Linked DNA regions of Homo sapiens: regions 2, 3, 4, 5, 6 and 7 are each reported to be linked to region 1. The links are microRNA targets in miRTarBase. Many come from high-throughput screens and were not tested one by one. Region 1 holds a microRNA gene; each other region holds the end of a gene's coding sequence.

What was found. The annotated mature microRNA hsa-miR-210-3p reads CUGUGCGUGUGACAGCGGCUGA and lies in region 1 at 1,450-1,471, shown strand. An mRNA with a match to its seed (bases 2 to 7 or 8) in the 3' UTR can be bound and repressed. Matches are read on the target gene's strand: a 7mer-m8 pairs with bases 2 to 8, a 7mer-A1 pairs with bases 2 to 7 and ends in A, and an 8mer does both.
Region 2: the mRNA of ATP11C is a reported target of hsa-miR-210-3p. The part of its 3' UTR that is shown has no 7-base or 8-base seed match.
Region 3: miRTarBase lists GIT2 as a target of hsa-miR-210-3p. Seed matches in the 3' UTR shown: 7mer-m8 at 1,029-1,035.
Region 4: the mRNA of ERP27 is a reported target of hsa-miR-210-3p. Seed matches in the 3' UTR shown: 7mer-m8 at 456-462.
Region 5: miRTarBase lists EFNA3 as a target of hsa-miR-210-3p. Seed matches in the 3' UTR shown: 7mer-m8 at 1,328-1,334.
Region 6: the mRNA of PSAP is a reported target of hsa-miR-210-3p. Seed matches in the 3' UTR shown: 7mer-m8 at 2,398-2,404.
Region 7: miRTarBase lists COXFA4 as a target of hsa-miR-210-3p. Seed matches in the 3' UTR shown: 7mer-A1 at 2,560-2,566.

Annotation. Positions count from the first base shown.
Region 1 is chr11:566,470-569,582 of GRCh38, reverse strand. It overlaps MIR210 (microRNA 210), which reads left to right and starts at 1,385; the gene lies at 1,385-1,494. It overlaps MIR210HG (MIR210 host gene), which reads left to right and starts at 1,126. Exons shown (of 2, transcript NR_038262.1): 1 at 1,126-1,231; 2 at 1,730-3,113. RefSeq lists enhancers at 1-194, 2,780-3,113.
Region 2 is chrX:139,729,055-139,732,167 of GRCh38, reverse strand. ATP11C (ATPase phospholipid transporting 11C (ATP11C blood group)) reads left to right here. Exons shown (of 30, transcript NM_001353812.2): 29 at 413-517. The coding sequence ends at 514. Among named protein-coding and RNA genes, the nearest start is that of MCF2, 22 kb to the right of the region's middle.
Region 3 is chr12:109,930,159-109,933,271 of GRCh38, reverse strand. It overlaps GIT2 (GIT ArfGAP 2), which reads left to right. Exons shown (of 20, transcript NM_057169.5): 20 at 82-3,113. The coding sequence ends at 294. Among named protein-coding and RNA genes, the nearest start is that of TCHP, 31 kb to the right of the region's middle. RefSeq lists an enhancer at 1-644.
Region 4 is chr12:14,911,924-14,915,036 of GRCh38, reverse strand. It overlaps ERP27 (endoplasmic reticulum protein 27), which reads left to right. Exons shown (of 7, transcript NM_152321.4): 7 at 255-998. The coding sequence ends at 302. Among named protein-coding and RNA genes, the nearest start is that of ERP27, 25 kb to the left of the region's middle.
Region 5 is chr1:155,086,014-155,089,013 of GRCh38, forward strand. EFNA3 (ephrin A3) reads left to right here. Exons shown (of 5, transcript NM_004952.5): 4 at 115-192; 5 at 400-1,525. The coding sequence ends at 530. EFNA4-EFNA3 (EFNA4-EFNA3 readthrough) reads left to right here. Exons shown (of 5, transcript NM_001407761.1): 4 at 115-192; 5 at 400-1,525. The coding sequence ends at 530. Among named protein-coding and RNA genes, the nearest start is that of EFNA3, 8.7 kb to the left of the region's middle.
Region 6 is chr10:71,814,966-71,817,965 of GRCh38, forward strand. PSAP (prosaposin) reads right to left here. Exons shown (of 14, transcript NM_002778.4): 14 at 1,333-2,511. The coding sequence ends at 2,476. CDH23 (cadherin related 23) reads left to right here. Exons shown (of 70, transcript NM_022124.6): 70 at 1-982. The coding sequence ends at 313. Among named protein-coding and RNA genes, the nearest start is that of MIR7152, 26 kb to the left of the region's middle.
Region 7 is chr7:10,931,014-10,934,126 of GRCh38, forward strand. It overlaps COXFA4 (cytochrome c oxidase associated subunit FA4), which reads right to left. Exons shown (of 4, transcript NM_002489.4): 4 at 930-2,679. The coding sequence ends at 2,623. Among named protein-coding and RNA genes, the nearest start is that of COXFA4, 7.6 kb to the right of the region's middle.

The DNA of each region.
Region 1 (3,113 bases):
GGCTGGGGCAGGGGGCAGGCTGCGGCCCAGGCCTGCGCGGATGCCGAGGCAGGGAGGTCATGGGGCCAGGGGAGGACAAAGAGCAGGGCGGTGAGTTTAGGGCCAGGGAGCTGAGGGGAGACGGCCCGGGGCCGAGGACCAGGGTGACAGTGCCAAGGGGGGCCGGCGGCCAAATCTCCTTTGGCTGCCACTTTGGAGCCCCACCCCGGAGTCCGATACTTCCACGTCTGAAGCTGGCCCTGCGAGTCCTAACGAAGGTCAAACCGTCAAGGCTCCTTTGATTTTACACGTTTTCAGCGCACAGACAGGATTCTCTCGCCTCGTCCCCTCAAAGACCGGCACAGGGCTGCGAAGACCCCTGAGCCCTTGAGGCACCCCCTCCAGGCTCCAGAGGCTTCCGCGGAGACAGAGCGCGCAGGAGGGACCCAGAGCCCCCAAGGGCGCCCCGTGGGGGTCGCCAGGCAAACCAGGCAGAGCCAGAGCCCCCTCTTCGCCAGCAGGACGGACCCGGGCGTCCTTTGGGGACCCCAAGCCGCCCGGGGGGTGGTGCGTGCGTCCCGAGGACGCCGTGTCCGGGCCCGCGCAGGCCCCACCCGGGTCACGGCCCGGGATACGTGCGCCGGGCGCCCAGCGGGTTGGGGGGGGCGGGCCCGCGGGACGCGGGTGCGGGGCACGGAGGCGGCCGGGTCGTACCACCGCGCCGCGGGAAGAGGGGCAGCTCCCGGCCGGCCCTGCCGCCCCACGCACACCCGCGGGCGGAGGACCCGTCGCCAGGCTGCGCCCCACGCCCAGCCCGGAAGCCCCGCGAGCCCGGGCCATACCACCGCGCGGCGGGAGGAGGACCACCTCGGGCCGTACCATCCGCCCGGCCGGGGGACGCGCCCTGGCCCCGCCGCGCCCTCGCAGCTGGCGCCCCGCAGGCCCCGCCCGGCAGGTGCCGCCCCTCCCCGGGCAGACGTGCAGAAAAGAACGCGCCGGCCTCGCCCGCGAAGGGCCGCGCGGCGGTGGGCGGGGCGTCGCGAACCCCCCTCGCGCCCACTGGCTGCGTTGCGGTAGGGCGGGCCCGGCTAGGCCGGCCATTGGCTGAGGGACCAGGTCATTTGCATACGGGGCTGGGCGTGGAGCCGCGGGGCCCGGGGCCGGTCGGGTCGGGCCGGGGGGCGAGAGGGTGCCAGCGGCCGCAGCTGAAGTTGGGCCGAGAGCCGGCGACGGCCCCGCGCCGGGGTCGCAGGTGACGCGCGAGGGATCCCAGGTTGGCGGGCGGGGCGCCCCTCAGAGGCCGCCCTCCCGCGGGGGCTGCGGGGGGTCGGGCTGGGCAGGCGCGGCGGGGCTCGGACGCCCAAGTTGGAGGGGACGGGGGTGGGGTCAATCCCTCCGCCCGCCCACCCGGCAGTGCCTCCAGGCGCAGGGCAGCCCCTGCCCACCGCACACTGCGCTGCCCCAGACCCACTGTGCGTGTGACAGCGGCTGATCTGTGCCTGGGCAGCGCGACCCTCCTGGCCCCGTGTCCGGGTCTGGCGGGCAGGCGAGCGGCCACACGGGGACGCGAGGGCAGCTGGATACCGTGGGGAGGGGGTGCCCTATGGACGGGGTGTGCCTGTCTGGCCAGCAGGGACGGCGGGTGGGGGTAAGCGAAATCATTCGGGGGCTTTGCTGCCCTCCGCTTGGTGGGGCTGAGGCTGGGCCAGATACCCTCTTGGAGGGAACTTTCTTTTCCTTGTGTGTCCAGGGTACCAGTGTGCGGAGTTCCTGTTGCCAAGCTGAAGGTGGCCCTGGGCAGGCACAGGTGTGGTCATATCTTCAGCCAACAGGACCATCCTCCGGAGGGCCACCTCTGGGGACTTCCTACGGGAAGAGAGTGACAGATTTGGTGCTTCTGTGTGTTTCTGCCGCTTCAGTGGGGCCGCTGCGGGAGACAGCGGGTGGATCCTCCAGCAGCCTGTCTGCTGAGCCTGCCTTCTCAAGTCTACTGTTAAAATCAGGACCGGGTCGTGTCCGAGCCTACAGGCCCTGTCTCCGCTCCCCAGGCCTGCAGGAGTTGAGGGCTGCACCTGCTCGCTGGAGAGGGAGAGGCAGATTTAGTGGACGCCTGGCATGGACTCGGACTGGCCTTTGGAAGCTCCCTGCCCTGACGGGGTTGCCTGTCACCACTGCGAAGTGAGGCTTGGCAGGACCTGCACCTGAGAAAGGCTGTGTGTGGTCTTGGGGTCCACACCTGCAGAGCTAACTTACTGCCAGACGGCGACTTACTGTGGGCCACCCTCAGTGAACCGGGGTGTCCTCAGCTGGCCCTACAGAGCACTTCTGTGCTGGGGATGAGTAGGAACTCTGGGCGAGGAGGGTCCCAGCGCCGCCCCTCGATACAGCCTGGCTCTGCCCTCTGCCCGTACTTACACCAGGTGGGATCCCTGCCCTGCATTGCCTGGGGATTGGCTGGGCTTGGGCCCGCCCTGCTGTGGAACTGGATGTTTTCAGGGAGCCCAGCCTTTCCTCATGTCAACACAGTTCACAATATAGTTTTCAAAGTACAGTTTAAAACTCAAAAGTAAACTTTTCAGCAACTCAAAGGTTTGCTGAGTGATCTGAAGCACTCTGGCCACTTTTTGGGGCCATGGGATTTGGTTCACCTGAAACAGCCAGTGAGAGGCCGGGTGTGGTGGCTCACACCCGTAATCCCAACACTTCAGGAGGCAGACGCGGGTGATCGCTCACTTGAGATCAGGAGTTCAAGACCAGCCTGGGCAACATGGTGAAACCTCGTCTCTACTAAAAATACAAAAATTAGCTAGGCATGGTGGTGGGCACCTGTAATCCCAGCTACTTGGAAGGCTGAGGCAAGAGAATCGCTTGAACCTGGGAGGTGGAGGTTGCAGCGAGACGAGATTACGCCGCTGCACTCCAGCCTGGGTGACGAGAGACTCTGCCTCAAAAAAATAAAAAAATGAAACAGCCAGTGAGGAGGAAGGCTCCCCGCCTTCCCCCCGCCGGAACATAGCCATAGCTGCTGCTGGGACACCCTCTTGGTGGGGAAGAAGGCTGGTTAGCTTCATCAGAGCCAGCAGCAGCAGACCAGGGACGGGCACCTAGGCAGTGGCCTCAGAGTGAACAGGAGT
Region 2 (3,113 bases), not on the chromosome of region 1:
TCACCAGGACAGGAATGTTTTGCACAAATTTCTCTTTGTTTGATAATACGGCACCGGCACAACTCTCAGAGGTGTTCACCAAAAGGATGGTAAGGTTTACTAATCAAACCATATTGACTCATCTTACCATATTACTTACCAGTGCCATTCCAAAAACCCAAGTTTACTACATACTACTGTTGTCTGTTTACTTCTACCACAAAAACAATTCGAGTTGGAGACTTTCTTAGGCCTTTGAATGTATTCATTTGAATGTTATACATTTACTATATAGTGTAATCATTTGTACTTTTGGCCAGAGGAGTAGTCTATAGGAAATGATTTTTTTCTTTTACCTTTTTTTAAATATATAATCACCAGGTAGGTTAACCAATTTTCAAATGCTTTAAGTATCTTTGCCTCACTATTACAGAGAAATCTGAGCTGTAGAAGGGCATCTGACTCATTATCCGCCAGACCTTCAGTCAGACCTCTTCTTTTACGAACATTCTCAGACGAATCTAATGTATTGTAACAGGTACCTAGTGTTAAACAAATGGGCTGGCTTTAAAAAATCGGATTAACAGCATTATAAAGAAAAAATGAAAATATCACTCTCTAAATTTTCTCTGCTGTTGGTGTGGTGAACTTTACAATATTCTTTGCAAAAATATAAAGATGCATTACTTGGAATATGGGGAAATATGCATTTAAAATATTAAACATTAAAATATGATAAGCCCCCCAAATAAAATGTTAAACATTTTTCAGAGCCAAATGTTGATACAGCATATTTAATTTGTAAGGGGCAAGTTGTCATGGCAAGGCCACCATGTGAAAATGTTTGTTAATATTGATCAGGAAATATAACTTTGATTTATAAAGATCATTTGGAAAACTAAAAGTAAATATTCCAAAATTGCATCTGTATAATATCAAGCCAATTTAGCATTGCATGTTCTCTTGGGAATTATGTGAAAATAACTAAATGTGTTTGTACCTTCATGTGCTGTGTCTGTGTGTTTGCAGGTACTGTATACACTTATGTCCTTGTAAATGTCTGATCTCCAAATATATATCAATGAACCAGTCTAATCATAACTTTTTTAATGTCAAGTTTTATTCAAGCTAAATGTTTCAACTTTCAGAGGTAAAATATTTCATAGCCATTCAGGGGGATGCTTGCCTAATGATATAAAATGCTTTATAATTAATGTTTCCAAAAATGATTAAATTCACTTTATAATGTTTCATTTACCCCCAAAAATATTTGGGAGGAATTGATACGCCGTGGGAGGGCCCCTTGAACTCAGAATGACTCCTTTATGTATAGTCTGTATTTCCTTCAGTGGGGGCCTTTAACAACTCAGACCTCTGGAGGTCTTTTATCCATCCATAGGAATTTAGAGTAATTAATGAACAAGGCTTCCAAGCTTGTCAGCTTGGAAACAACTCTACACAGCTTAAAGCAGGGCCATCTTTCATGCACACATAAAAATTAATGATCATCATGAATACAATTGTGGGTTAGTTCACTTTGAAGCTAATAATTGCGAGTCCACCTTATAGGCCCATTTTTTTCAACAGCTGTCAACTCTGCCACCCTCTAGCAAAGAATACAAGTTAAATTAATGGATTGACTCCATTGGTTCTTCTGTCTTCCTGGAGTTCATCGCAGTCTACATCTGCACTGTTATTTTAGAAGCAGACTCATTTTGCCACAGTTAGCATCTTTTTACCCATTTTTGAACAACTTACCTGAGTATGTTTTCCCTTAGTAATGAATCTGCTTCACAAGTAACCTTCAAGGTCTTTGACCCCTTTGTCCCAGATTGCCTCGTTCTAAGCTGTGTGATGCATTTTAGCTATATTGTTTCTGGCTAATTTTGTATCCCCCTGGATTGCTCTCTTTAGCTTGGTCTGTGGTTTGGGGGACTGGGCTGGATAGAAGACACTGCTGTTGCTTTTGGCCTCTCCAGGGCCTTATCTCCTACAATGTCTAACATAGAACTGAGGAAGTATTTTTTAAAAACAATTGTCTTATTTTTAATGTAGTTATTTCTTCCAGGAATAGATTTTCATGTGGCATTATTTCTCCTCCAAAGACAATAATTAGCAGCTAGTTTAGGCATCTAGTTTGTTCCTTGGTTGGTAAGGAAACTACCTAACTCCTCAATGTGAGTTACATTCTCAGTATGAATGGCAACCTTATTTTGGTTAGAGTCACCATGACCCTGCAGAGCTACCTGAAAACCTACTAGTGGTTCTGGAGAATGTGGAACATAAATAGAAATGGAAGGTATTCTAATGAGCTTCTAGTCCAGCCATGGCAAAGGAGGTGTCCCAGAATGGGAAGAAAATAGCATACTACTTAAGACCTTCCACTACTCAGGTTCAAAAAGATTGAGTTTTAGAGTGGAGAATCAGGCTCCCTGTTTTGACATATGACTTCCATTTCTTAACATACTTGACTTACACTTAATGATCAGTTTGTCTGTCATGCACCATCCTGATCATAGCATTTGATGATGTTTAGAGGACAGAGAAGAATCTACAGATTTGATAGGGAAATATCCGTGGTTTCTCTTCCAAAAAGATGAAGCATAAGAAAAAACAGAAGAATCAATCGACTCATAGATACATGATCTACCAAAAGGAAAATTAACTTCCATATTGTAGGGGGGAAATATGCTTCTTTCAGTAAAAAGGAAGAATATTTTCACAATAATCTTCCAAAGCTGAATATATCTTCAGACTTCCTCTGTCAAAATTAACACATCAAGAAAAACAGCAATCTAATCATTCATCAAACATTTCCTGAGTATCTGCTGTGTGCCAGACACTATTACTAGCTGCTGGAGATAGAAGGTAAATAAAATGTTCCTGTTTTCAAGGACCTCCCAGCCTAGAGGAGAAGGGATCACAGCAAGCTAAACCTCTGCTATGGTAAATAATCCCAGAGGTAGAAAGTATTAGGAGAACCCTGGAACAATCCAAAAGCAAAAAGCAAGCCTGAATCTATTCAGCTGACAAATGAAGAAAGGATTAAAATCTGGTTATAGTGTCACTCTTTTTTTCCCCTGCATGTGAATAAAACTTGGCACTTTGTTAAGACAGTTGCTTTACTCTCATAA
Region 3 (3,113 bases), not on the chromosome of region 1:
TTGCTTTAGAAGAATGTTTGTCCCCTGCTTTTGGATGTCTGCCCTGCAGTTCAGGGTAAACGGCTGTCTTTTTCCTTTTAGAAACCCAAGTCTGATATGGTGAGGACTTCCCTTCGTTTACTGACGTCCAGTGCCTACCGACTGCAGTCAGAGTGCAAGAAGACCCTCCCAGGGGACCCCGGCTCACCCACAGACGTTCAGCTGGTCACGCAGCAGGTCATCCAGTGTGCGTACGACATCGCCAAGGCTGCCAAGCAGCTGGTTACCATCACCACCAAAGAGAACAACAACTGACAAGGGCAGGGCACCGCCTCCTCTGTTTTCTAGGCTTTATAAAGTCCAATTTCAAATTCAGACGCAGAACTCTTCAGATTTCTACAAAAAGAAACATTTAATGACGGTTTAAAACTTTTTAAAAGAAAACTCAGTATTATTTTTGCATGTTTTCTAACCAATTTTCAACTATTTAACCCACTTGCCTTATTTTGTGCCTATTTGCTGGTTTAGTTTCTGATGTTCGGTTGTGTTGTCAACAACTGTTGAGTTGATCACATACATCCAAAAGTATAGTTTCATTGTCTAAAGTTTGTGAAAACTTTTCCATCCCTTAAAACTCCCTGCCTATGGCTGAAACTATAAATGAAATTTTTCATAAAACATTTTCTTGAGAGAGTTCAGTTAAAAAAGAAAAAATCAGCGTCATTTGTTCCCTGCCAAGCATCGTGCAATAAGTGAATTTCCTGGCCTACTTCATAATCTCTAAGTTTGGGGTATCTCCAAGCATGTATGTAGAGAAAGGACTTTGCCGCTTTTTAAAACTAGTGTCACAGTCTCTCTTGGGAGGAAACAATGAATTGGTTCATTTCTTCTCAGTGTTTTACCCTGTTACATGTTCTGTTATTTAATGTTGTTATCTCAAGCTCCTATCTCTTGATGTTTTCTTGTCATCTTGAAGGCTCCATGGAATGAGATAAAGCATTGACCCACCACAGGACATCTCATGAAGCCATGTTCAGGGTAGGAGCTCCACGCACATCACCACCCATTGTCAGGTGCTCTCCCTCACCCCTGTAAGCCAGACAGTTTGTTCAAAACCTGCAGCAAAGAGAAGCATCAGTCTAACAAGCCAGAACTCATTTTGTGCCACCCATTTAGGTATCACTACCATGAACTATAGGGAAAAGAAATCACCTACTCCCTGACACTGTGTTGTACCCTTCATCCAAAAGTCAGCTTGCTTCTCTGACCACTTACAGCTTTCTCACATGAGTTGCTTCACATTTTTCATCATCTTTAAGGACTTCTTATAAGGAAAGATGTATCGTATCGCAGTCATCTGAGTTAGTTTCTCCTCCATCACCTCATGAGTACTTAAAAATTAGACATCAACTTTCAAGAGTTCCTTAGAGAGTGTGCTCTAGCTGGCTGCCTGCTACCCCAAAGCTCTGAAAGAGTAAGGTTGAAGTGCTGGAACATGCTCAGATTGTTTTTTAGTTACTCAAAAGCCCCTTCTTGTTCTGAATGTGAAAGCTCTTCCCGTTCCTGCTTACTGCAGCCATTCTGTGTGTGTGGTTCAGACCCTGGCCTAGGGCCGGTGATGTGGATGAGTGAAGGGAGCCAGGTACACGGCAGCAGGGCAGAGGAGACTATGGGGAGCCCACCGCCTACACAGTAGGGGCAGTAGCCCCCAGCTCCACGCCTGTTGCCATGTGGAAAAGTGGGCCTAGGGTGGCCACAGCTTTGATTTTTCAAGAGACAAGAAACCTAGATGTTTTTTGGTGCCATCTCTCCATTTATAAATGTTGGCAACCAATTTGAACACTTTCAGAGACCATGTGCAGGTGAGCTGTGTCCTCTAGGCTGCCAGCTCACAGCCCCCACCCCAGGGCCCTGTAAGCTGTGCAGTGTGAGGGCCTGGCTTCCCCGGACACACCTGGAGCAGCCTCTGAGTCTTACCCGTAATGGAGCCGGCCAACCCTGTGTGTTATGTTGCTGTCGCTCCTGTTTTTAACCATATGTTCTGTCCCATAGCAGTCATTCACACATGTGAAGAAGACACAAGAATCAAAGTACAAGTTGCCTCAATACATGCTAATAACTAAGCTTCTATTTTCACAGGACTGATCGATGCACACCTTTATAGCTTGACCATATGCTGTCATGAAAGTAGCACCCCGACGGTGCTTGCTTTACTAAGTCACCGTGTGTGGATGCTTTTGTCGCATTTTGCTTCACTGTGAGTAGCATGGGAAAAGGGTCCACGTCTCCAAAAGACTCTTCCACTTGTTTGTCCCACAGCCCTAAGTGCCACATTGCTGTTGGATGCTCCCGGGATGCCTTCTAGAAGGGGGCCTCCCACCTTAAGTTCAGGCGCCATCTGATAGCCTTTTCTGCAGGCTTCATGTCCTTAGCTGACCCTCCTTTATCTTGCAAACCCCTGCCCCTGCTGTCCCAGGGAGGACGGGCTTCTGTAGAGGCTTCTGGGAAATGAGCTGTCTGCAGGAGGTGAAGCAGTGTTTTCCTTGGAATGTTTGAGGACCTGCAATAGAAGATGTTGCCTTTATGGCCCTAGAGAAAGTCAAGGAACATGGGGACCAACAAAGCATTTCCAGTTGTAAGAATATGTCAGAAGAGTGCTCGGTTAGCCCACGGTGCCAAAACTCCAAACAAGTTCCCCGGTGGAATGACGTGGCCATTGGAGGGCTGCAGGTCGTCCTCTCTGTATGTGCCCCGCGCATTTCCTTGGCCTCATCTGAGATCTGGTGTCAGAGTTCTCTGCTCCTGTTGGCAAATCGCACCTTATCTGAACATTTGTTCCAGCCACCTTTTGCACATGGATTCCGTACCTTGCACTAGCAATGTCTACCTTCAGTAACGTCGTTCTTTTTCACCCTGTATTCTCAATGATCCCTTCCTCCCCATATGCCACCCTTCCCCCAAAGCTGATAGGGCAGAGGTGCACTTTATGAAACTGGCACTTGACTGAACAGAAGGAAACAGCTGTACCTCTAAGCTCCTTTCACAGAAATCGTCATCTGCCTTGGAATGCAAATAGTTCTTATTTGCCAAAGAACAGTGAATTGGGCCCAAAGATCAAACACAGCATTTCATGT
Region 4 (3,113 bases), not on the chromosome of region 1:
GATATGGTGGCCGGAGTCAGGATGCTTGTTAGGATATATCGTGAGACTCAAACTAGAAAAGCATGTTTGGAAAGGCCTTGCATATTCAGAGGCTGAATTTTGGATTTCAGCATTTAGTGTAAAGCATTAATGGGCAACAAATCAAACTTCATATAACAGGGTTCATGAGATAAAAATTAAAGAAGGATTTAGGACTTCCAGGAGTAAACAGCTCAGTTTACTAATCTAAATATCATTGTTATAATGTTTTCCAGAAAGAAAATCGTGAATCAGAAGGAAAGACTCCAAAGGTGGAACTCTGACTTCTCCTTGGAACTACATATGGCCAAGTATCTACTTTATGCAAAGTAAAAAGGCACAACTCAAATCTCAGAGACACTAAACAACAGGATCACTAGGCCTGCCAACCACACACACACGCACGTGCACACACGCACGCACGCGTGCACACACACACGCACACACACACACACACACAGAGCTTCATTTCCTGTCTTAAAATCTCGTTTTCTCTTCTTCCTTCTTTTAAATTTCATATCCTCACTCCCTATCCAATTTCCTTCTTATCGTGCATTCATACTCTGTAAGCCCATCTGTAACACACCTAGATCAAGGCTTTAAGAGACTCACTGTGATGCCTCTATGAAAGAGAGGCATTCCTAGAGAAAGATTGTTCCAATTTGTCATTTAATATCAAGTTTGTATACTGCACATGACTTACACACAACATAGTTCCTGCTCTTTTAAGGTTACCTAAGGGTTGAAACTCTACCTTCTTTCATAAGCACATGTCCGTCTCTGACTCAGGATCAAAAACCAAAGGATGGTTTTAAACACCTTTGTGAAATTGTCTTTTTGCCAGAAGTTAAAGGCTGTCTCCAAGTCCCTGAACTCAGCAGAAATAGACCATGTGAAAACTCCATGCTTGGTTAGCATCTCCAACTCCCTATGTAAATCAACAACCTGCATAATAAATAAAAGGCAATCATGTTATAGGAGAAAGGCTGGCATCTCTTTGCAGGCCAAACCTTTTGTAAATACCCAGCTGCCCAACTAAGCAGCATGTTCCTCCCTCTGCAGTGCCCACTGTTTAGTGTCAGACCATAAGCCACTAACATGTTATTGTTCACTCTGTGGGTGGGATGGGTGGAAAATAGAGACCATCCTGCATGAGGATTGGAACAAATGTGGCAACTGAGCTAGGAAGCAAATTAGGTGAAAGGTTGGGGAGCAGATAGGAGAAGCAGGGCACTGGCAGTGGGACGGGCTGAGGCTGACTAAGCCTTGGATTATTGCAGGTAAGGTGTGTGATCCAGCTCCTGTGTGGTGAAAGGAGAGCTTGGCTGAGTGACTCTGGCCCATAGGCTGTTACTATCAACACACAGATGCTGCATTGTTCCCAGGAGGCCCTTGGCTCAGGAGGAAAGTGCCTAAGTGCTGAAGAGCTGAAAAACCACAGATGTACCTAAGGACTGGTCCAAGTGAGGAACAGGGAGTGAAAGGCTCAGTTGTTCTTTCTGTGGGGAAAACTCCACAGCCCCTGGGCGGGAGTCAGCTGCTGGCAACCACACTGTGAAAGCCCCAGTGTAAGGCGTGCCCTTCAGCAACGAGACCAAGGTATTCTGTGGAGGTCACACAGTCCAACCCAGGGCTGCAGAAAACCACCCAAACAGCTTCTCGCTTGAGGCTGAAAAATATTCCTAAGATAGGCACATCCCAGAAGGCTCCTTTGGATCCTGTAAACGAGAGCTCTTGACATTTACGGTCAGGAAATTCTTCCTGATATCCAGCTGAGGTCCTCTGGCCATGGAAGCTATTTCTTCTTGCCCACCCTTTGTGGAAATTCTTAACAGCTTCCAGATGCCCTCCTCAAACCATGCCTTTAACCACTTGCTGGCTGCACTGAAGCCCCTTTATCTAGCCATCTTTCCCCCATACTCACAATCTAACTCTCATCATTTGGTTTTTATCATTTGATTTACTTCATTGTTTTTCTCGCCTCATTCTTTCCCAACTTTTCCTCTTTCTTGCTTAAAATAGTTGGAACCCAAACTATAGTAGGACCCATGAGCTACATTTTGTTTGATATTGTGCTAATTTTTCAATTATTTTTCTTGAAGTGTTCCCCTCAAAAACAATAATCAAAATGGACCACATGGGTCTTAACATCTTTACAATGCATTTTTCTACTTGCTGACATTCAATAACAATTTTATTATATTATTTTATATACTTATTTGTATGTGTATAATATTGAAGTGAATCCTTCCTTCTCATCTTGTAGTTCTTCATAACTGCCAGTTACTTTTGCCGGTCTTCTTCATAGGCAGTCCTGTTCTTTGTAGCTCCGGGGGTCTCATAACCAAAGAATGGGACTTCAGAAAGAAGAAATTTGTAAAGATTCACCCATTTATTAAAGATCAGATCTTTAGAAGGGCACAGTGACTCATGCCTATAATCCCAGCACTTTGGGAGGCCAAGGCGGGCAGATCACAAGGTCAGGAGTTCAAGACCAGCCTGACCCACATGGCGAAACCCTGTCTCTCCTTAAAAAAAAAAAACAAGAAATACAAAAAAAAAAAAAAAAATTGGCCGGGCATGGTGGTGCAGGCTTGTAATCCCAGCTACTCAGCAGGCTGAGGCAGGAGAATCGATTAAACCTGGGAGGTGGAGGTTGCAGTGAGCCGAGATCCTGGATCCTGCCATTGCACTCCAGCCTGGGCAACAGAGAGAGACTCTGTCTCAAAAAAAAAAAAAAAAATCAGATCTTATAAACATCTGCAATTTTTTCTCTGTCTTGAGAATCTTTTGCCAGGTCTACATCCATTTCCCCAGGGCTATGTTATTGTTGAGATGTCTGGATACATCTCAGCTATTTTTCATTGTGGAATCATTCAATGGCCCTCACTGACAAGACTGCCATACTTTTTCTTTAGAGTACGAAGGAAGTGATAATATTATACAATATAAATTTGAAAAAGATGTTAACATATTTGGAAGACTATGATGGAAGGAGCGGGACTGAAGCAGGATTCAAAGGAATGACTGGAAAGTTTGGGTTTGAGTCTCACCTATTCTATGTATGTGCCTCTATGACACTGGAAAAATTACTT
Region 5 (3,000 bases), not on the chromosome of region 1:
GGGTGGGGGCGGAGGGCACAGGTGAGGGGGGCTTGCTCCCCAGCCGTAGCAAGGGGAGGGAATCCTGGCCCTGACTCTCCCCTCCTCTCTCCCCACCCGCACCCCACCCCGCAGCATCGCACTCCGGGGAGAAGCCGGTCCCCACTCTCCCCCAGTTCACCATGGGCCCCAATGTGAAGATCAACGTGCTGGGTGAGTCTGCGCAGCGCCCTCTGGTGGCCACTGCTGGAACCGCAGCCCCCCGCCCCGGTGCCTGCTCACCTCGCATGCCTTCCCTGGGGGCACTGATACTTCCTACCCTGTGGGTGGTCACGTCCCTGGCTCCATTGCTGCTGCCGCGTGCCCCTGCCCTGGCGCGCAACCCAGCCCTCACCAGTCTGTCTGTTCCTCTGTCCACAGAAGACTTTGAGGGAGAGAACCCTCAGGTGCCCAAGCTTGAGAAGAGCATCAGCGGGACCAGCCCCAAACGGGAACACCTGCCCCTGGCCGTGGGCATCGCCTTCTTCCTCATGACGTTCTTGGCCTCCTAGCTCTGCCCCCTCCCCTGGGGGGGGAGAGATGGGGCGGGGCTTGGAAGGAGCAGGGAGCCTTTGGCCTCTCCAAGGGAAGCCTAGTGGGCCTAGACCCCTCCTCCCATGGCTAGAAGTGGGGCCTGCACCATACATCTGTGTCCGCCCCCTCTACCCCTTCCCCCCACGTAGGGCACTGTAGTGGACCAAGCACGGGGACAGCCATGGGTCCCGGGCGGCCTTGTGGCTCTGGTAATGTTTGGTACCAAACTTGGGGGCCAAAAAGGGCAGTGCTCAGGACTCCCTGGCCCCTGGTACCTTTCCCTGACTCCTGGTGCCCTCTCCCTTTGTCCCCCCAGAGAGACATATGCCCCCAGAGAGAGCAAATCGAAGCGTGGGAGGCACCCCCATTGCTCTCCTCCAGGGGCAGAACATGGGGAGGGGACTAGATGGGCAAGGGGCAGCACTGCCTGCTGCTTCCTTCCCCTGTTTACAGCAATAAGCACGTCCTCCTCCCCCACTCCCACTTCCAGGATTGTGGTTTGGATTGAAACCAAGTTTACAAGTAGACACCCCTGGGGGGGCGGGCAGTGGACAAGGATGGCAAGGGGTGGGCATTGGGGTGCCAGGCAGGCATGTACAGACTCTATATCTCTATATATAATGTACAGACAGACAGAGTCCCTTCCCTCTTTAACCCCCTGACCTTTCTTGACTTCCCCTTCAGCTTCAGACCCCTTCCCCACCAGGCTAGGCCCCCCACACCTGGGGGACCCCCTGGCCCCTCTTTTGTCTTCTGTGAAGACAGGACCTATGCAACGCACAGACACTTTTGGAGACCGTAAAACAACAACGCCCCCTCCCTTCCAGCCCTGAGCCGGGAACCATCTCCCAGGACCTTGCCCTGCTCACCCTATGTGGTCCCACCTATCCTCCTGGGCCTTTTTCAAGTGCTTTGGCTGTGACTTTCATACTCTGCTCTTAGTCTAAAAAAAATAAACTGGAGATAAAAATAACTGAGTGTGTGTGATTTCAAGGGGCCATCACCCTTCTGTTACACTGGTTAAACCTCACAGGGCACAGGGCCTGAGTAGGAGAGGGAATTCTGGGGCCAAAGAGTCACAACGAGGTGTTCAAATCTTGTTCTGGGGCTCATCTTCATTACAAAGGCAGCGCTGCTTGGAAAGAGCAAGAGGGGCCTCCAGGCAGGGCCTGGTTGACTTTGGGCAAATCACTCAACCTCTCTGATTCTCAGGTATCCCACCAGAAAAACTGGTTGTGGTATCTCTCTCTTAGGGTTGGTGTAGGGATTAAATGACGCAGGGAGTTAAAGGCTCCATCAATTATGGTTTCCACCTTTTCTTCCCCTTCCATGCTGTAATTGAGGTTCTTGACTGGAGTCTATGGATTTCAGGGGATTTGAGAACCTAGACAGAAAAAAAACTATCTTTATTTTCACTTGCCTATAACTAAAATTTAACATTCTCTTGTGTGCTTGGGCAGCAAGCCATAATAGTATTAATAGTACCTGTGACTTTGTAACCAGAAATCACACGTTTTCAGGCTGCATTATAGTTGTTGAAGATATCTCAAAATACAATTTACACTCATCAGTACTTTGAAATGATCATAGTTGTTAGGCCTTCCTCATTTTTAATGTGTTAATAAGAAAGCATATATATTACTATATCAAGAAATGTAAATGTTTTGATAACTCTTTCAATATAATTAGCTTTCTTTATAACCCTTTGTAATTTTACTCATTTCAAACATTATGCCCAAGGTGCTGGGAGTTTGCTGGGGCTGGGGCTGCTCATAACTACACCACCCTGCATCGCTCGGGAGGGCAGAGAGGACAGAAGGGCAAAAGACAGGATAATGGCCGCTTCCCAGGGGCCCCAGAGAAGGTCAGGGTTTACAGACCAGCACAGCATAAGGGAGTGCGGATAGGGGCTGAAATGTACCTGCAACTTCACTTGCTGAGCCAAGTGCCTGGCCCAGGGAGGGGACACCTTATTGCCAAGCTGTGCACCCATGGGACTCCATCCCACCCAGGCTCTCTAATTGGCACTGTGTGAGCAGGCCAGATCCTGTGTGCCCCTGTGGCTCTTGCCGGCTGCTTTGTGAGAATGAGCCCTTGGTGGTAAGGACTGTGTTTTCTGCTCCTCTCTACCCATAAAACATGGAAAATGGAATCTGAGCTAGACTCTGCAGAGTGGGTGGGTTTCCCAATAGCGGAACAGGGAAGAGTGTGGGGTGGGAGAGCAGGTGGGGAAAGAACTGGGGGCAGCCACTAGACCAGTCTGAGACTCCCTACAGACTGATAAGACAGAAAAGGTGGGCCTATCCATCCAATCGTCCATGCATTCAATCCACATTTATCGAGCACCTGCCGAGTGCCAGGCTCTATCCTGGGTATTGGAGACACAAGATATAGTCTCTACCCCAAAATAAGCTCATACTTTAGTATGTGTTGATGTATGAGCAGAAA
Region 6 (3,000 bases), not on the chromosome of region 1:
GCTGGACGAGGAGCCAGGAGACCACAGCCCAGGGCAGGGTAGCCTGCGCTTCCGCCACAAGCCACCAGTGGAGCTCAAGGGGCCCGATGGGATCCATGTGGTGCACGGCAGCACGGGCACGCTGCTGGCCACCGACCTCAACAGCCTGCCCGAGGAAGACCAGAAGGGCCTGGGCCGCTCGCTGGAGACGCTGACCGCTGCCGAGGCCACTGCCTTCGAGCGCAACGCCCGCACAGAATCCGCCAAATCCACACCCCTGCACAAACTTCGCGACGTGATCATGGAGACCCCCCTGGAGATCACAGAGCTGTGACTAGACAGGGAAGCCTTGTGGGTGTGAGCAGCACCCATCCACCGTCCCCTCCCAGGGAGCAAGGGCAGGGACAGGGCCGGTCGGGGGGGACCCTCCAAGGCCAGGCCTTGGGGACAACCTTGGCTTGGCCCTGGCAGCCCGCATCAGCTGCTCAGATCCCACTTTTGCCAGACGCTCATTCAGCATCTGACCTCTACCTTCATAAGATCTGTTATTTTTATAAGAAAACCAAACAAAAATGTTAAGCATCTAAGGACAAGGTAAGGAGGGTCACTGGGGCCCAAGAGTCTGGGGACCAGCTTGGCTCAGGCTGAGCTGAAAGAGGCCAAACAGGCCCTCCTCCCTCCCAGCTCCACCCCGCAAGCACCATCCCCTCCGGCTAAGCAGGCGCAAGGGAGGCCCAGCGCGGACATCCCCTGCTGGCCGGACACCCGACTCCAGTCCAAGTCTCGCTACATTTCCGCCACATCCCTCTCTGCTGGACGTCCAGGTGGAGGTGGCATCCCCACGTGGACAAGAAAGTCAATGTCAATGAACAAGCATTCTCTCCATTTCACTGGCTTCCCAAATGTGTGCCCAGCTTATAAACAGAAGTGACTGATGTTCCCTCCGGTTTTGAATGTGGAGTGTTTGTGTGTGTTCCTTTTTTAAATTAAGTTATTCCCTCAATAGTTTCCCCTTGGTTTTGTTTAACTGGTACTCACTACAAGTTTCTGGAATGGTTTGTTTAAAAATCAAGGCAACTCTCAAGGAACTGGCAACGTGCTCTGACTCTGGCCTCTAGGGAGCAGGGACAGGGGCAGGTGAAGAGCAGAGCCGACCTTCAGGTGCGCCTGACCTACTGCTGGCCCTGAGTCTTGGGGAGGATGAGGTGGGATCTTCCTTTATCCACTTTGCTTTCATTCTCTGGCCAAGATGGGTCATGGGAGTGCTGGGCCCCAAAGGTGTCATGGGCTCAGAGCTCATCAGAGAGGAACAAACTCTTCCAGCTGAAGGGTCACAGAAACATTAGGCCCAGATCTGGCTAACAGAATTTTATTGTTAAATCACAGAAACTTTAGTGCAAAACAAAAATCACGAAGTCCATTTAATAGCAACTTCATGTCCTGCTGGCTTTGCTTGCTGTCTCCTGGCAACCAGAAGTGGACAGAAGCGTGGGTGCCCAAGTGGGCCACAGACAGCTTCCAACCCCCACACCCCAGCATCCAATCCACACCCAGCAGACCCTTCGGCATGCCGCCCTCTACCAGGAAGCCAGAGGCCTAGGAGCTCGCCATCCATATTTATTTGAAAAGGTCAAAAGGAGCATCTATGAGACAAGGGAGGGGTGCAGGCTGAAGCAGCGCCTCAACAGCCAGGGACATGTAGGCAACACGAGCAGGCACAGCGCGGCCACCACTGTCCACACGCTCACACAAGCCAGGCCCGCAGGGCCTTCGGAGAGCTAGCAGGTTACATTCAGGCAGATGGCCCTCTTCCCACCCAAACCCACAGAACCCCAAACAAGGCATCACCAGGAAAGACACGGGAAAGCCAAATCACAGTTGAACCAGGGACAGAGAACCCTTGGCCCCACTGATGTCCCAAGCCACCAGCAGCTGCTTCCAAAATCCCTATGCTATTACAGTGGGAATTACATCATTTAAAAAGCCTGATTATTCCAGGCTTCTAATCTTTCATATAAAACTGCCTTTGTTTTGCTGCTTTGTTCAACTGAGAGGCCCAGGAAAGCGGGGAGGGTCCCTGATCAGGGCAGGAGGCCACCTCAGAAGCCCAGGCCCACCAGTGCCCAAGCACATGTCAGGGCTCAGAACAAGGCCTCAACCAAGAGGGTTGATGGCCTCCAGTCAAGAAACTGTGGCTCATGCCAGCAGAGCTCTCTCCTCCTCCAGCAGGCGCCATGCAAGGGCAGGCTAAAAGACCTCCAGTGCATCAACATCCATCTAGCAGAGAGAAAAGGGGCACTGAAGCAGCTATGTCTGCCAGGGGCTAGGGGCTCCCTTGCAGACAGCAATGCTACAATAAAGGACACAGAAATGGGGGAGGTGGGGGAGCCCTATTTTTATAACAAAGTCAAACAGATCTGTGCGTTCATTCCCCCAGACACACAAGTAGAAAAAAACCAATGCTGTGGTTTCTGCCAAGATGGAATATTCCTCCTCCTAGTTCCACACATGGCGTTTGCAATGCTCGACAGCCTGGTAGGAGAGAGGAAGCTGAGTTTAGTCTTCGGATGAAAAACTCCGTTCCCGGCCCATCAATGTATCAGATATCACCCCAAAACAGGACCTGTTCTCTTGTCCTAGGTCAGCTGGATGGCACCAGATGCTGAAGACCCAGGACAGGATCTCACTTAAAAACAGGGAACACGTGGCCATCAGAGTTTTGGGAACTTCTAAGGCACGAGTCCAGAGCAGCAGATGCCTGCAGCAGTTTGCAGATGAGTACCCACGCAGGCAGGGCTCAGGACCCTTCATCTACCTGCACCCGGCACCCAGCGTCCTGCTAGCAGCCTGCACACTAACTCCCAGGCAGAACCTCCTTGCCTGAGTTAGGCTACACACCAGCTCGGGCCTTGAGAAGCAGGCCCACATTTCCCCAGGACAGCAGCAGAACCAGCTGTGGGGTGGGGCTGGCGGTGGAGATGGGCTGGAGCCTAGCTGGAGGAAAGAGCTGGACATGGCCAG
Region 7 (3,113 bases), not on the chromosome of region 1:
TTGTCTATGTGATCTCTGCACACACCAGCTACCCTTCGCCTTCTATCATGAGTGGAAGCAGCCTGAGGCTTTCACCAGATGTCCAATCTTCCAGCCAACAGAATCACGAGCAAAATAACCCTTTTTTTAATGTATAAATTACGCAGTTTCAGGTATTCATTTATAGCAACAGAGTAAGACAAGTACCTACTGGGAAGCATATATAAATTATGAAAACTGCAAATTTTTAAATACATGTAAATACTACCCAAGGATATCTGTATTTAAATGCAGCTTTGCCTGCAGACTTCATTAACATGAGAAACAAAGGCAGCAGTCTGTTTTCTGAATGAAGCATAGTAGGGCCAGGAGTAGTGACTCTCGCCTGTAATCCCAACACTTGGAGAGGCCAAGGCAGGCGGATCGCCTGTGGTCGGCAGTTTGAGACCAGCCTGGCCAACATGGCGAAACTGTCTACCAAAAATACAAAAATTAGCCAGGCATTGTGGTGGGCACCTGTAATCCCAGCTATTCAGGAGGCTGAGGCAGAATAGCTTGAACTCAGGAGGCAGAGGTTGCAGTGAGCAGTGAGCCAAGATCACGCCACGGCACTCCAGCCTGGGTGACAGAACAAGACTCAGTCTCAAAAAAAAAAAAAAAAAAAAAAAAAAAAGCACAAGCACAATTCTAAACATTCAAAGAAAAAAAGTGTGTTATCTTTCGTGGCAGCATTGGTATCTGATGCATTTGTAAATGACAATTTCTTTAGATTGCCATTGAAGTTTCTTAAATAGCAGTAATAGTTTCTTCATTAAGACATATCCTATTTCATGCCAAACTTCATATGTATTCTTACATTGCAAAGTCCAAGGATAGACACAAAGTAGAAAGATACTACTCAAAGAATTTTTAAGGATGCATAAAATGATCCTCAATTCTAGAAAACGTTATTACTAATTTCTTAATGTAGCATTTATTTGGAGTTGCTTAATGTTTTTCAATTACATGACACACTGTTTGTTTACACAATTTTAAACTTTGAGGTAATTTGTGCCAAAGGATCTAGAGTAATTCTCAACAGAGGTAGGAATGAAGCAATTTTGCCCACCAATGGACATTTGGTAATGTCTCCATTCTTCTCATAGCCTGTGGGAATTGGAGGGAAAGAGTGCTTTTTGTCTGTAGTGGCAGAGCCCAAGTTAGCTACTAAACAAGCTAAAGCGCATGGGATGGTCTGCTAAACCAAACTGTCTTTCAGAAATAGTCAACAGTGGCAAGGTTGAGAAACCCTGTTCTTAGAGGTTCAAATTATACCTGACACATAGGAGGTAAAAGCATGGAGTCTGGTAACTGAAAACACTCTACACACTCTAAATTCAAAACTACATGGGTGTAAATATCCACCATTTGACTAACAGAATGAATTCAAGTAATTCAACTCGTTTAACAATTTCAAAATTTTTGAGATAATCCACGTAATTCAAATACTTAGTTCAGTTCCTGACATTTAAAATGTGCTTCTACTACCCTGTAAACATTTAATTGTATACTTACGTATGAAAATCCAAAATTAATGTCACTGAATTCCTCAAGTTTCTATGATGTGATGACTTACACACACCTATGTGAAAACTTGCTATATTCCCCATCTTAAAATTATGAATATACTTCCTGGCCTTTGAAAACCTGCACCATGGCTAAGCGCAATGGCTCACGCCTGTAATCCCAGCACCCTGGGAGGCTGAGGAGAATGGATCGCTTGAGCTCAAGAGTTTGAGACCAGCCTGGGCAACATGGCAAAACCCTGTCTCTAAAAAAAATTACAAAAATTAACTGGGCATGGTGGCACATACCTGTAGTCCCGGCTACTTAGGGGCTGAGGCAGGAGGATCACTTAAGCCCGGGAGGTAGAGGCTGCAGTGATCCATGTTTGTACCACTGCACTCCAGCCTGGGTGACAGAGACTATCTCAAAAAAAAAAAAAAGAAAAAAGAAAAGAAAACCTGCACCCTGCACCAAGACTCAGCAGCCAAAATTCTCAAGATCTCTTGACTACTAGCACCATGGTTAGCACTGATAAACTCAGATTTCAACTTCAATCCTAGGACCAAAGCAACTTATAACCTTGAAAATCACAACAAAGAGATGCCAAGTAAAAACCATTGTTAAAAACTGCACACACTTCAACAGCCAGTAAGAGAAACTCAAAGGTTTCCATTTTGCCAGTGTCAGATGCTGGAGTATCCTTCCCAATTTACTTTTGTATAATTTCCAGTTCCAGTTGTTATGTATGCTCTAGTGAAGTTACCAACAGTCTATACACAAAATGGAAGTGTTTTACTAAAGCAGCTTAAAGTCGTATTTTCAAACTACAGAAATTCAAGAAATTCTTTAAATTCTAATAGTTAATTTCCTATACTCTAAAGTTCAGAGCATACTTTCAGCATAAAAAAGTGACACATATCAAGTTTCAGTTATTTATTGATTTAATCATTGTAATCTCCAATAGAGATTACAATAGAGATCTCCAACATGATTTCATGCATTTAGAGGAGAAATATTTCCTGGTTAAGTGGAAAATTGTGCGGATGTGGCTTCTGGAAGACCTTCATTCTAAAGCAGCGTTATAGTGAAACATTTCATTTAGAAATCTGGACGTTCCTTCTTCAGCTTGCTGTAATCCACATTCACTGAGTAGAACTTGGAACAGAAAAAAAGATATTTTAAGTAATCTCAAATACACAGAGACGGTACAAAGGTTTTAGAATTCTTTGTATTTGGTTTTCTACAGTAACAATTACAGATATGAATTTTTAAAAGAATATTTAACAACATAAAATCATTCACAGAAAAATACTGTACCTAAAATTCCAGCCTTCAATGATAGTTTTGGCAAGGTAAAAATATTCAATTTATTTCAGAAGAGCAGTATTATAGTACAGTCTACTACTTGGAACCTATAAGGAAAATTCTTTTATTTCAAAGTGAATAATTAAGAATTCCTTCTGATACATACTTCCAATTCGGTAAGTTTTTGCCTTAACTCTACTAAGTACGTGGAAGAATCGCCAACAGAATAGAGGATTAACAAGAATTACCTTCCCTACTTGCTGAATGAACTGCTGTAATTTAGA